4 linked regions of the Homo sapiens genome follow. The protein of the gene in region 3 interacts with the protein of the main gene of each other region in a pairwise test. Each region holds a gene or a part of one and is shown on either strand. Other genes may lie near its edges.

The links.
Region 1: the proteins of C11orf58 (region 3) and RNF19A interact in a two-hybrid assay, tested with the Homo sapiens proteins (one large-scale study listed by BioGRID and IntAct).
Region 2: the proteins of C11orf58 (region 3) and SNCAIP interact in a two-hybrid assay, tested with the Homo sapiens proteins (one large-scale study listed by BioGRID and IntAct).
Region 4: the proteins of C11orf58 (region 3) and CEP126 interact in a two-hybrid assay, tested with the Homo sapiens proteins (one large-scale study listed by BioGRID and IntAct).

What each region holds. Positions count from the first base shown.
Region 1 is NC_000008.11:100,303,454-100,306,953, reverse strand, and holds part of RNF19A (E3 ubiquitin-protein ligase RNF19A), read left to right. Parts: intron 1-3,500. UniProt on the Homo sapiens protein: E3 ubiquitin-protein ligase which accepts ubiquitin from E2 ubiquitin-conjugating enzymes UBE2L3 and UBE2L6 in the form of a thioester and then directly transfers the ubiquitin to targeted substrates, such as SNCAIP or CASR.
Region 2 is NC_000005.10:122,448,237-122,451,736, forward strand, and holds part of SNCAIP (synphilin-1), read left to right. Parts: intron 1-1,608; coding exon 1,609-1,701; intron 1,702-2,296; coding exon 2,297-3,365; intron 3,366-3,500. UniProt on the Homo sapiens protein: Isoform 2 inhibits the ubiquitin ligase activity of SIAH1 and inhibits proteasomal degradation of target proteins. Isoform 2 inhibits autoubiquitination and proteasomal degradation of SIAH1, and thereby increases cellular levels of SIAH.
Region 3 is NC_000011.10:16,755,647-16,758,840, forward strand, and holds the end of C11orf58 (small acidic protein), read left to right. Parts: 3' UTR 1-2,694; downstream 2,695-3,194.
Region 4 is NC_000011.10:101,913,722-101,917,809, reverse strand, and holds the start of CEP126 (centrosomal protein of 126 kDa), read right to left. Parts: upstream 2,801-4,088; 5' UTR 2,526-2,800; coding exon 2,398-2,525; intron 1,792-2,397; exon of another isoform or gene 1,288-1,791; intron 1-1,287. UniProt on the Homo sapiens protein: Participates in cytokinesis. Necessary for microtubules and mitotic spindle organization. Involved in primary cilium formation.

The sequences.
Region 1 (3,500 bases), on a different chromosome or scaffold from region 3:
TACTTCAGCTTAAAAGCTATTTATCAAAATATTCATCTTACTACTTACGGAGAATAGCTAAATTTTTCTTTACTTAGGAATTTTTTTTCTCCAACTAGGAGTAATTATGAATTTTCTTTTTTTAAGCCATGCCAGTTCTCTGTTAGTAGATAGAAGATGTCTAACATTGAAACAACTCATTTACTTAACCGTACCTGCACAGCTAAAGACTAAGGGATAATATTTCCTTGCTGAACATACCTGTATTTCAGATGGTGGTAGGCTTCAACCAAACAGGCAGTGAAATCACTTTGGGTGTTTAAAACTTGTGTACTTCATTTGTTTCTCAAAAGTTATCATATGTCAGTGATACTTTCTATATCAAAGTGGAAAAAGTAACACTTCTTGATAAAGGAGGTTTTGCTTGCATTGCTCTCTTTATCACTGTCATTAACACCTGAAGAATTATTTTTATTGATAACTTTTTTAAAAAGCTATGCCATTAGCCTTAAAACCATTATGTAGTCTTATCCTATTGATGTTATCTAGTATTTTATTTTATAAATCATTTACTAAAGAATTACTGTTAATTTGTTTTAGAAGTCCTATTAGGAAAGGTTTTGTTACATGAAACTCTCAATATGACAGAAGTGTTCAGTTGTTTTAACTCTGAAATAAGTTTGTGCATTGAATTCTGAAGCAAAAATCCTGCTCAGAAATCACCTTAGCTTGTTTACGCCCAAAAGAAACTTCGAAACTGAGTCTTTGGTTCAAAAAACTGGAGTTGGCCCCATGAAATTATGTATACTTAGCATTTTTAACTTCTGTCCTGTTGGGGAGACCCCTGAGGATAAAAATAGTCCTTATGATTTGAATAGCAGGCAGGTTGCCAATTGAAGAGACTTTGGTAGAAGTGAGCCATAAGGAGGGAGCCAGAGTTGTTAGAGGGAAGGAGCAAGAAACCAGGAGAAGCTTTTGGGAATGTGATGATGTTAGGTTTCCAGATAAATATTATATAACGTATTAATATAAATATTGTATCACAAAAATAAGCTCATTATCATGAATCTGTTGATTTATATTTTGTGATTTCTAAGTCACGTATTGGTATTTGCCCCTGAAAATGGTAAGGTATCCTAAATTAAGTTATTCTAATGCATAATCACAAATGAGACTATGTGAAATGTGCAGAAGTATAGGAGCTAATGCAAGCTCTGTGATGGCAGGGACCATTTTCTTTGTTCACTCTTTAAGTCTTAGCACTTAGCATAAGCCTGACAATAAAAGATGTCGAATAAGTATTTGCTAATAGAATTAAAGTATCTACAATCTAAGGTATTTATTTTATAACTATCTCTTCAGCAGTGTTGTCCAATAGAAATACAATGTGAGCCACAAATATAATTTAAAATTTTCTAGTGCCACATTAAAGAAGTAAAAGGAAACAGGCAAAATTAGTTTTCATAATGCATTTAAGCCAATAGATCTGAAAGATTATCATGAGTGACTTTACGTACTTTTATTCATATTGGACAGCGTAGCTCTAGGGGCGTTTTGTATGACATGTTTCTTTCTGCAGAACTTGTCTTTTTGTAGTCTTTTTCTAACTGATTGATGTGTCTTTTGAGGCCAAATACAGAATTGCATACACCTTCGAATTGGAGTTATTGAGTTGGATTGAAAGTCAGGCTACCTGTCTTCTCTCAGTTTTACATCTCCGCACAAAATGACTTTGCGCGTTACTGTCTTTCCCAATGTATAATCCTGTAATCCCAGCAGTATGGGGAGCTGAGGCAGGCAGATCATTTGAGGTCGGGCAAGACTAGCCTGACCAACATGGTGAAACCCTGCCTCTACTAAAAAATACAAAAATTTGCTGGGCTTGGTGGCAGGCACCTGTCATGCCAGCTACTAGGGAGGCTGAGGCAGGAGAATTGCTTGAACTTGGGAGGTAGAGGTTGCAGTGAGCTGAGATTGTGCCACTGTACTCCAGCCTGAGCAACAGAGCAAGACACCATCTCTAAAATAAAATAAGGAAGGATATTCATCATCTTTTTCATTGGATTAGTATAAGTTAATTATGCCTTTGAAACACTCTGGGCTACTCAGACAAGACTGTTATAAAAGAGATCCTCTAATTATTAGTAACTAGTCAGAGCAAGGCTCAGTGTAAAAAACAGGATAGAAGTTCCCATGAGACTGGTGCATATAGAATGTACTGTTACCTCCCACATTGGAATCAGTAACAATAAATCAATACAAGATGCTCTTAAATAGAATCAGGAGAGGCGACTAGGTTGGTTTGAGCACCAGATTTTAAACCTCTCATCTATTTAATATTGCCTGAACAAATCTGTTTTTCAGTTTTTGTATGGAATAAATGGGACTTTTTATATAGGCATCCTTAAATAAAATCATGAAATAAGGTCATTTGGAAAGTGGAGGTGGGAACTGGTAAGTAATGTGAGTGCGTAAGTGGGGGTGGGAACTGGTAAGTAGTGTGAGTGCGTAAGTGGGGAAAATAAAGTAACCATTTAGAAAAGCCTGTTATCTTAGGGTATATGATGTATATAGTACAATGACTGTAATTCTTTTATCCAAAGCAAGGGTGGCAGTGGTTACCTGGTAGGCAGTTGTGACTTCTGGTTGTATACATAGCCATATCAAATAGATTTCTCCTTATAGCCATACCCTTTAATATAAAACCAACTTTTGTCAGGCATGGTGACTCATGCTTGTAATTCCAGCACTTTGGGAGGCCAAGGTGGGCAAATCACCTGAGGTTAGGAGTTCGAGACCAGCCTGGCCAACATGGTGAAACCCTGTCTCTACTAAAAATACAAAAAAAAATTTACCTAGGTATGGTGGTGGGCACCTGCAGTTCCAGCTACTTGGGAGGCTGAGGCAGGAGAATTGCTCCAACCTGAGAGGTGGAGGTTATAGTGAGCCGAGATTGCGACATTGCACTCCAGGCAGGGTGACAAGCAAATCTGTGTCTCAAAAATAAAAATAAATAAATAAATAAAAACTTTTTTTTGGAGACAGAGTTTCACTCTGTCACCCAGGCTGGAGTGCAGTGACGCAATCTTGGCTTACTGCACCCTCCGCCTCCCAGGCTGAAACGATTCTCATTCCTCAGCCTGCCAGTAGCTGGGATTACAGGCACCTGCCACCACACCCAGCTAATCATTTTTTTTTTTTTTTTTTTTTTTTACAAGCGGCGAGGTTTTGCCATGTTGGCCAGGCTGATTTCGAACTCCTGGACTCAAGTGATCCGCCCACGTCAGCCTTCCAAAGTGCTGGGATTACAGGCGTGAGCCACTGCACCTGGCCCATTTTTAAAATTATGCACAAACGTTAAATATCCTTTAGATTTTTGCATAATTTAGCATACCTTACTGATGTCCTTAGCAAAAATTTCCAGAACCATATTTTAGTGTGTTGCATGGTAACCCCACAAAAGATATGTTCATGTCCTAATCCCCAGAATCTGCAAATGTTATTTGGAAAAAGGGGTTTTG
Region 2 (3,500 bases), on a different chromosome or scaffold from region 3:
TGTCATTTTTTTCTGCTAATTGTATTATTATAATAGTTTTCTATTGCTCTGTAACAAATTACCACAAGATTAGTGGCTTAAAACAGCATCAAATTTATCTTACAGTTCTGTGGGTCAAGCCAAGCTAGGCAGAACACACCTGTAGTCCCCACTACTTGGGAAGCTGAGGAGGGAGCATCACTTGAGCCAGGGGTTCAAGTCCAGCCTGAGAAGCATAGCAAGACTCTGTCTCTAAAAATATTTTTAATTAAAAAATTTTTTAATTCAAACAATTTAGGAAAAGTAAATATAACATTTTGAAGTATATCCTTCCATATTTTTTATATATATATATCCTTCCATATTTTATATATATTTTTATATATATTATATATATTTTTATATATATAATATATATTATATGTTATATATATTTTTATATATATTATATATATTATATATGTTATATATATATTATATATATTATATACATATATATAATATATATGTTTTATATATATATATACACACACACACATACATGTGGGAAAGACAGAGTTAGTTTTCTTAAAAATGAGATTACAAGGTCAGGAGATCGAGACCATCCCGACTAACAAGGTGAAACCCCATCTCTACTAAAAATACAAAAAATTAGCTGGGCGGAGTGGCGGGTGCCTGTAGTCCCAGTTACTCGGGAGGCTGAGGCAGGAGAATGGCGTGAACCCGGGAGGCGGAGCTTCCAGTGAGCCGAGATAGCACCACTGCAGTCCGGCCTGGGCAAAAGAGCAAGACTCCGACTCAAAAAAAAAAATGAGGTTACAGATGCTCCTAAATTTACCGTGGGTTTACATCCCAATGAACACATCACAAATTGAAAATATCATAAGGTAAAAATGCATTTAATACACCTAACCTGTAGAACATCGTATCCTAGCCTAGCCTACCTTAAGCGTGTTCAGACCACTTACATTAGCCTACAGTTGGGCAAAATCATCTAACACAAATTGTACTTTATGATAAAGTTTTAATATCCCATGTAATGTATTGACTACTGTACTGAAAGTGAGAAAGAATGGCTGTATGGATACTCAAAGTACAGTTTCTACTGAATCCATATCACTTTCTCACCACTGTAAATTTGAAAAATCACAAGTTATAGTAAGTCAGAGATTGTATGCTGCAAATAGTATTTTGTAGTTTCCTTTTTTATTTAATGAAAGTAAAGTATACTTCATATATACATATTTATATATATGAAACTATGCTTTATATCTACATTATATAGACATAATTAGGAAGACTTCTTCTATGTCCATAGATACTCAAACATATTATCATTTTAATAGCTGTCATTATAGAAATAATTATAATTTGTTCACTGAGACTTACTGCTAAGCATTTAGGTTACTTATAATTTTTCATTAATATTGACAATACATATCTTTTTGGGGTACTTTTGATTGTTTCCTTAGGAAAATTTCTGAACCTGTAAGGATGAATATTATGCACATTTTAAGGCTTTTGTATTTATTGCAACTTACTGGAAATTATTACGAAAAATATTATACACCCTAATTTATAGCAGTAACCAGTATCAGAGTCCTCATGTGTTTTGGTTGTTTTCCCCAGACAAACAGTAGAACGTGTCACGCTGCAGAACCAACTCCAACAATTTCTAGAAGCCCAGAAATCAGAGGGCAAGTCACTCCCTTCTTCACCCAGGTAATACCAGCACATTGTTGTTTAGCATTCTTAAGTATCCTAAATTGTTAAGCCTTCTTCTGAACTTCCTTTGATATATTTTAAGAGGATGACAACAGAAAACATTTTCTTCTTATAAAGAGGAATAAAAATGAGAAATCACAGTGAAAAAGGCACTGGACCTAGAGTCTGAAGACCTGCTGTATTCTCTGATTCTGCTATTTCTTCATTCCACGACTATAAACAAGTCATTTACTCTTTTGTAAGAATTGAATCTTTCAATTCTTCATCTGTGAAGTGGGAATAGGAGATATATATATATAGCTTGATAAGTTTGTTGAAAATGGAATTAACTGAGAAAATTTATGCAAAATTGATGTATAAACAGTAAAACAGACAAATTTAGTAGTCATGGTAGTTATAGCCGAAGGCATAAGGCACCTTATAGCTGATACTATGGAGTATTTGCACATTGTTTCGAAAAGAAATTATGTACTTATCTGTATTCTGTTCTTATTTACTTATACATTATTAGTGTCAGTAAAGACCATGTAGTGACTTGAGTCATTTCAACCCAGTAGGAAATCATCTCATATGTCCTTCATCTTCTTTTTAGTTCACCATCCTCACCTGCCTCCAGAAAGTCCCAGTGGAAATCTCCAGATGCAGATGATGATTCTGTAGCCAAAAGCAAGCCAGGAGTCCAAGAGGGGATTCAGGTTCTTGGAAGCCTGTCAGCCTCCAGCCGGGCTAGACCCAAAGCAAAAGATGAAGATTCTGATAAAATCTTACGCCAGTTATTGGGAAAGGAAATCTCAGAAAATGTCTGCACCCAGGAAAAACTGTCCTTGGAATTCCAGGATGCTCAGGCTTCCTCTAGAAATTCTAAAAAGATCCCACTGGAGAAGAGGGAACTGAAGTTAGCCAGGCTGAGACAGCTGATGCAGAGGTCACTGAGTGAGTCTGACACAGACTCCAACAACTCTGAGGACCCCAAGACTACCCCAGTGAGGAAGGCTGACCGACCAAGGCCGCAGCCCATTGTAGAAAGCGTAGAGAGTATGGACAGCGCAGAAAGCCTGCACCTGATGATTAAGAAACACACCTTGGCATCAGGGGGACGCAGGTTTCCTTTCAGCATCAAGGCCTCCAAATCCCTGGATGGCCACAGCCCATCTCCCACCTCAGAGAGCAGCGAACCAGACTTAGAATCCCAGTATCCAGGCTCAGGGAGTATTCCTCCAAACCAGCCCTCTGGTGACCCTCAGCAGCCCAGCCCTGACAGTACTGCTGCCCAGAAAGTTGCCACAAGTCCCAAGAGTGCCCTCAAGTCTCCATCTTCCAAGCGTAGGACATCTCAGAACTTAAAACTGAGAGTTACCTTTGAGGAGCCTGTGGTGCAGATGGAGCAGCCTAGCCTTGAACTGAATGGAGAAAAAGACAAAGATAAGGGCAGGACTCTCCAGCGGACCTCCACAAGTAACGAATCGGGGGATCAACTGAAAAGGCCTTTTGGAGCCTTTCGATCTATCATGGAGACACTAAGTGGCAACCAAAACAATAATAATAACTACCAGGCAGCCAACCAGCTGAAAACCTCTACATTGCCCTTGACCTCACTTGGGAGGAAGACAGATGCCAAGGGAAACCCTGCCAGCTCCGCTAGCAAAGGAAAGAATAAGGCAGTAAGTGCTATTTGGAGAATATTCTTTTTTTTCCTTCAAATGGATTATGTTGTTCCTAATATCACAGATTGTGGGCCCACACTACCTTGAGGGAATCCCCAGGAAAAAAAAAAATCCAAAGGGATGCATGGAAAG
Region 3 (3,194 bases):
CACTTGTTAAGATGGAGTTATAACTGTCATACATTTGGAATATTATGATCCCAAGTAGTCTTTTTATAATTTGGATTGTATCGTATGTTAGATTTTTGATAAAATTTGGCCAATTTTTACAGAAGAAATTCTCTGATCATTTAGTTCTGTCTATTTAGAAATATGTAAAACTGGATTTTTTTTTAAGTAATATGTGACCAAAGTTAATTTTGTCCCAAAGGTCTAAATAAAGAGCAGTTTCCCATATTTGGCTGTGATACCTTTATCCTCATTATCTACAAATGAGGAACAGGCTTACTGATAAGAAGCTGAAACAAGAAATTCTCTTCATTTTATCCCAGTGCTATTTTATTGATTAATTACTAAAAAGTATTACTTTCTAATTTTATTGCTGTTTCTGTTGGTGTGAGATTAGAATCATCTGACTGCTATTAGGTGGTTGATTTGTATAGCTGATTAACACAAATTGCATTATGAGCTAGTAAATGGATCTTTGGATAATGGGGTCCAAATTCTTAATGTTTATAAGTAACAAGTTCAAAGGCTTTAGTCACACCTGTTTGTGAGCTGAGCTATTATACATCTACATACTTAAAGGATGTATTTGGAGTGTTGGATTTTTTTTTTTTTTTTTTTTTTTTGAGACGGAGTCTCATTCTGTCGCCCAGGCTGGAGTGCAGTGGCGCGATCTCAGCTAACTGCAACCTCTGCCTCCCAGGTTCAAGCGATTCTCCTGCCTCAGCCTCCCAAGTAGTTGGGACTACAGTCATGTGCCACTACTCCTGGCTAATTTTTTGTATTTTTAGTAGAGTTGGGGTTTCACGGTGTTAGCCAGGATCGTCTCGATCTCCTGACCTCGTGATCCACCCACCTTGGCCTCCCAAAGTGCTGGGATTACAGGCGTGAGCCACCACGCCCAGCCTTGGAGTGTTGGAATTTTTAAAAATTATTCTTATGTCACTTTGAAATGTAGAACGTGTTGCCATGTGCGGTGGCTCACACCTATAATCCCAGCACTTTGGGAGGCCGAGGTGGCTGGATCACCTGAAGTCAGGAGTTTGAGACCAGCCTGACCAACATGGAGAAACCCCATCTCTACTAAAAATACAAAATTAGCTGGGCGTGGTGGTGCATGCCTGTAATCCCAGCTACTCAGGAGGCTGAGGCAGGAGAATCACTTGAACCCAGGAAGCGGAGGTTGCAGTGAGCCAAGATCACCCCATTGCACTCCAGCCTGGGCAACAAGAGCAAAACTCCATCTCAAAAAAAAAAAAAAAAAAAATTTAGAATGTGTTAGAGAAATTTAACAAGTAGAACAGGTGATTTCTGGTTGATAGACTCTATCTTGCAGTATATTTATTTCATGTATCAGACCCCAAAGTTGTTGCCTTGTTATTTTTTTAATTTCTCACATTTTTGAAAAATAGATGCTATCCTCTATAGTAAAATATTGAATCACTTTATAGTAGACAATACATATGACATTTAACAAATACTTGGTTTGAAAAAGTTTGGCTTTATTCAACAATTTTAGTTTGCCCACTGATTTTCAAATGTCTGTGGGATTGCTTATAACTAAGTAGAAAGTGAAGACTGATTTTTACTTAAGAATGGGATAGAGATGAGTTTTATGGTTTTTAAAAGTATTTTCAGTTCATTATTTAAATGTTGGGTTGTTGATATGGTCTTGTTTCTGATAAGGAAATAGGAGCAACTTGTTTTAAAATAACTACACTAAAAGACTTTCTTCATCTCCGTATAGAGAAATCCAGATTTCAATTAATTCATTTATTGGGTGCTAACAAAATTCAGGGTTAGAGTAAATTTAGGTCTGTTGGTCCATGTGGCCTGGTTTCCTAGCACCCATTAAACATAATGCTATCTTTTAAGCCTGAACATGTGGGTTTTTTAAATCAAATTGGAAAAAAATTAGACAACTGATGTCATGCTGTCTTGGTATCCATACTAAAAAAGTATCAGGAAAATAGATTATTTTTGTGCTGTGAAACACTATTCAGTGGAAAGTTTAGTGGCAACTTTTCCATATCATTCATGACTTAATACCTGAAATGCACTTTTAAATGTTTGCCTTATATCCAAGTGTTTACTTGTATCCATGACCTAACCGTCTATTGAAAAGAATGTTTGCAGATGCAGATTGCAATGTTGTTTGTATTCATAGGCAAAAGTCCTCTTCTCTAGTATAATTTTTTAAATCTGAGAGAATTGAAGGTACAGAAAAAAATTCTGGAGTGCCTGAACCACAGTTTGAGAGCACAAAGGTCACATTCTTTCAGTAAATTTGGGGGAAATAAATTTCAGCTACCTGGTTAGCTTCAGTGACTACTTACACACAGGGCTTTGGTTCCATTACTTGTTTCCACCACAGCCACATCCTAAATACTTGGAATATCCGAAAACAACTTCTAAAATCACTCAATAAAAGTATTCACTTCTAACCAACTCCTCCTCCTTTATACCTGCTCTGTGTTAGGGCGTAGTCTGTTTCCACCTCTGTAAGTCCTATCTAGGCTTCCTGATCTATCAATTCAGTATCATGATTGTTAACCCAAACGACTTCCTGGAAAATTCCCAGCCCTAGATGTATCCAAGCCCTCCTACCCTCACCAGTTATTTCTGGAGAAAGATCACCAAATGTATAAATCCGTATTAGTAAAAATTGGTTTTAACTGACCTCAGCACTGCCCATTACCCTTATTTTCTCTAGTCGGTTCTCCATTCTTACTATGTAAAACTTATACTCTGAAACTTGTTACCCTCTTTTTTTCCTTCACTCTTAACATGTCCTTGCCTTCTATCTTACATAAAAATAGAGACCTTCAGGCACAAATTCCCTGAACTTCACTTACTAAATCCACAGCCATGGACAAGATTCTGTGCTCTAGGTTGTGACATCCCAACTCTACCACAGGGCTAAACTCGGTGACCTTGAGCATAAGTTGATCTCTCTGGGTCTCCTTTCTGGGTAAGTAAAATGAGGATAGTAACAGTAACCCCCTTTGCATAGTTAGTTATTGTGAGACTTAGGTAAAATGAACAAAAAGCTTAGTGCATAGATAAGTGATCAGTAAGTGCTGGCTCCTGGTTCCCACCACCCCCTCTGCCGCCCCGAGATGGGGTCCTGCTCTGTCACCCAAGCTGGAGTTCAGCAGCATGATCATGGTCATGGCTCA
Region 4 (4,088 bases), about 85 Mb from region 3:
TGAGGCAGAATGATTGGGGTACAAATAGCCAAAGATGTTGGTGAGAGAAAGTTCAAATAGTTAAGAATAGGGTATAAACTGGAGAGGAAAGGAGAGGCAAGGTGGGTGCTAGGATAAAATGGGAGGGTTGAAGGGTAGAGATATTTATGAGGAAAAAAAGGCAGGTATAAGGGGACATGAGAGACCTTCCTTTTTTTTTTTTTTTTAAATTCCATTTCTATTTGAACTCTCAAAAGAGAAAAAGAGATTGAAATGACAGAACTTTAGCTAATTTTAATTAAATAAACTTCATAAGGTTTTGTTGTTTTATAACCTTTAGAGTCAGAAAATTCTGACTCCAGTGAGAAAATGTCTTCAACAGAAAGCCAGATGGCCTCTGAGTATCATGTTCATATTTGAAATTGAAATGTAAATGTTACCACATACTTGCTTATTTTAAGGCTGTGGTCCTTTCATTTGCTTTCTTTCCTTTTTTTCATTTAGTCATGTAAATTTGAGCACCTACTCTGTGCTAGGTATCCAATGGGAAACATTATAGACACAAAGAACATTCCAATTAAACTTATATAAAAGGTACTTTAGTGTTTTTCCAGCTAGCAAACATAATGTTCTTGATTTAGTGTTATAATCTTTATTATGTTCAAAAATAATTCCTCTGTTCCAATTTAAATATATATTATCTAAACATATATATACACACATATGCAAACTAGCAAAAATATATATAAACCAGCACACACACACACACACACACACACACACACACACACACACACACACATTGTTGGATTTTATCAAAGTCTATTGGTCATCTATTAAAATGTTCATTTATAACTTGCCTAATTTTAACTATATATTTAGCCTTTAAGGATCTTTTTTAGTGTTGTATTTCTTTATAGGAAATGTCATTCTAATTCTGGAATAGAGTCTATTTGGTTGTGTTCATTCAAAGTATTGCTGGATTCTATTTATGAATATTTTCTTTGGCATTTGTATCAAAAATTTATACCACATAAAATTTAAAAAATGAGGCCTACAACCATTTTATTAATGAAAATAACAGAAAATACACTCTCAATGAGCCATTTACAATACTTCCCTATTTTCTGATTTAGAGATAAATCAGGGTCGTGTAATAGCAGTTGTGTCCAAGAAAATATAATGTCAAGAGGCCAGAATTAAATCCATACAGAAAATGATTGTGTTCATTTCAGAGTAACCTTTAAGAGGGCAATTTTGGGGAGCAGCAAGGGCAAAAGCCAAACTGAATGGGGTTAATAATGAATAGATGAGAGGAACTAGAAGCAGCTATTGCAAGCTACCATTTTGAGAACCTGCCCAAAGAAAGAAAAGACTGAAGGGATGGAAGATTGCAGAAAGCATGATCGGAGAAGAGATATTTTACTTTTAGTGAAGCTCTATACACATTTGTCTTCCTCACTAGATTTGTATCCCTAGAACCTAGAACAGAGTCAGCCAAAGAGCAGGCACTCAATACAAATTGTTGACTTGCTGCTAAAATTGTAACAGAGTACAAAGAACATCCTAGAAATTGGAGACAAAGGGGATAAGAAAACAGAGTTAACTTGGAAAGAGAAGACACTCATCTCTGACAAGACTGAAGATGATTACACAACACCATCATTGCCAACCAAGTCCTTTGGGAATACAAAGGTTAAATCCTAATCATCACAACAGTCTCTAAAGGAATAAACCTGATTTACAGATTTTGATAACAAAATACTTCTCCTCTTTCCATTTTCTACAATGCAACCAACAGCAACATCAAAGGTAGGCTTAACCAACTCTTCGAGAAAAGTCAGAGTTAATCCAGATTGTAAAGCGTCCAGGTCCCCTGTTTCTCATTTCCTCTTTTCTGTCGCTCTGACAACAGACTGGGCAGAGATGGAAAACAAAACAACTTACCAAACTGTGTAGCCTTTAGCAGCTCTGGTAAATGCATTTAGGGCTGTGTTAGGATAACTGTTAAAACGGACTCTTTAGGATAGCAAAACATTTTACTTATTTGTGTAATTTCTCTCTCCAAGTAGTACGATAAATCAGGAAGTAGTTAATATGTAAGTAAAGAACATAATGGCATAAAAATATCCCCACAGAATACACAGTTGATGTGTTTTAAAATTCACAAAAATTTTACAAAGTTGAAGAATGGGAGTAGGATAACAGGGTGATGGGGGGAAGCAGCCACAGAATTAGATAAAATGGTATAATTTCAGGTCTAAGGTGAGACACGACAGTTGCTAAAGGAAATATCTGCACTAAGATGACTTGCTAGTTTTGATCACCCTGCGTCAAAGGTAATGGGAATCTAATTGGAAAAAGATGGGCCCCGTTTTCAACATCGCTACCCTGGCAGCCACAGGCTGGGAAGGATACAGGTAAGAGCCAGGTCGGTGATGCCCGCCGCTCTCCCGAGGGCCGAGGGGGGCTCTGTCGAGGTTGTCCGATGATTCAGTGCCCAGTTCCCCGACCGCGCTCCGGGTTCCGGGCCTCCCCGCCAGCATCCTTCACTTCAGCGCCGCCTGTCTGCTCGCCCCCAGAACCTCCCTCATGGCAGCTCCGGCTTCCTCCTCCTCCTGCTCGGCCCCTCCCTACACTCCGTCTCTCAGGCCCCGCGTCACGGGCGCGGAAGGGTTGGCCTCGACAGCCCTAGCTCCCGCGCAGCGGCACTGGTGCCTGTAGCGGCGATGGCAGCTGAGGCAGCGGCGACCTCGCCGGGCAATAGCAGATGGGGCGGCAGCAACCCTGCAGCCGCCATCTTGACAACAACCGACGGCGCGTCCTTGACAACGGAAACCTGGGAGGAGCTACAGGTCGGGGCGGGACGATGTGCCCGAAGCAGCCAATCGCAGGCTCCGGCGGCCCCTCCAGCTTCGAGCGGCGGGTGGCAACCCAAGCATCCCTAGGGACCCGGGTTGTTGCGCGAGGGGTGAGCTGAGTGTTGTTTTAGAGCCTGATGCAGTTCTGCCTCCCTTTTTATGAGAGTGTTTTTGTGGCAGTACCGACAGTGACGAAAGACAGATGTAAAATCCTCAGATACAGGCAATTGCCACCGGGAGGAGTCTGCAGTGATTGTCTGGGGGACAATTTGGAGTTGAATTTGTTAAACTACTGAATCCTGTTGTGAGATTTTGAGTTGTGAGTCTTTCTGTGGCATCATCATCCCCAAACACCGTCTCTTTAAAATGTCTTTGTGAAGTGGAAATTTTCCTTCCCTGCATTCTCTCATCCACTCGGTAATGCTTCTGGCATTCCCTCTGCAGTCGTCTTCCTTGCCTTTGCCCTACTTAGAAGGTCTACATTTCAAAGCCTCCTAATGGTTCTCGCATTGCTGCCAGATTCTGGAAATGGACCATCACAGCAAAACTAGCAATCTCTTGGGAAGATATGCCAAAAGAGATCATCGCATTGAAATGGTTTTGGGAAGTATGGAAAATTAAATGGATTTTTGAGACACTAGTTTATTGGCTATGCAAGTGACAGTTTTGAAAAAGGCTGAATCTTATTGTTGGAGCCTAATGTAAATGCATATATAAATTCTGACTGTATTTCAGTCAGTGTTTTCTTGGAAAAATTCCCAGATTGGAAGCAGAAAGTACAGACCAAATAAAGATTATTCACCCACCATTCAAATGTCTCTGCCTTTGTGAATTAATTTGTTCATTTTAAGATTTCAAATAATAAACTTTTCCAGTTGAAACTGTTTAAAACAATCTTTGCAAACTTGGTTGCAATGACTCAAATTGGAATGTACACTGGCGACAGATTTTAAAGTGCCACAACAAATCCAGTTTCGATTTAAGACACAAAACACATGAACTCTCCTTCAGAAGCATACCAACAGGATAAAATATACAATTCTGACATGAAAAGCTAAATGTATACAACTGGACACTTGGCTATCTTGGCAAGTTTTTAATTGGCCTAGCCACAGGCAATGGCCTTGATTCTATTCCCACTGCTGTCATCACACGTTTGTCTCCCCATGGGTGATCTGAGTAAAGTAGGGCAGTGCAAAGTACAGATGAATATGAGAATATTAGAGTTGCTATTTGGAATATTTAGGC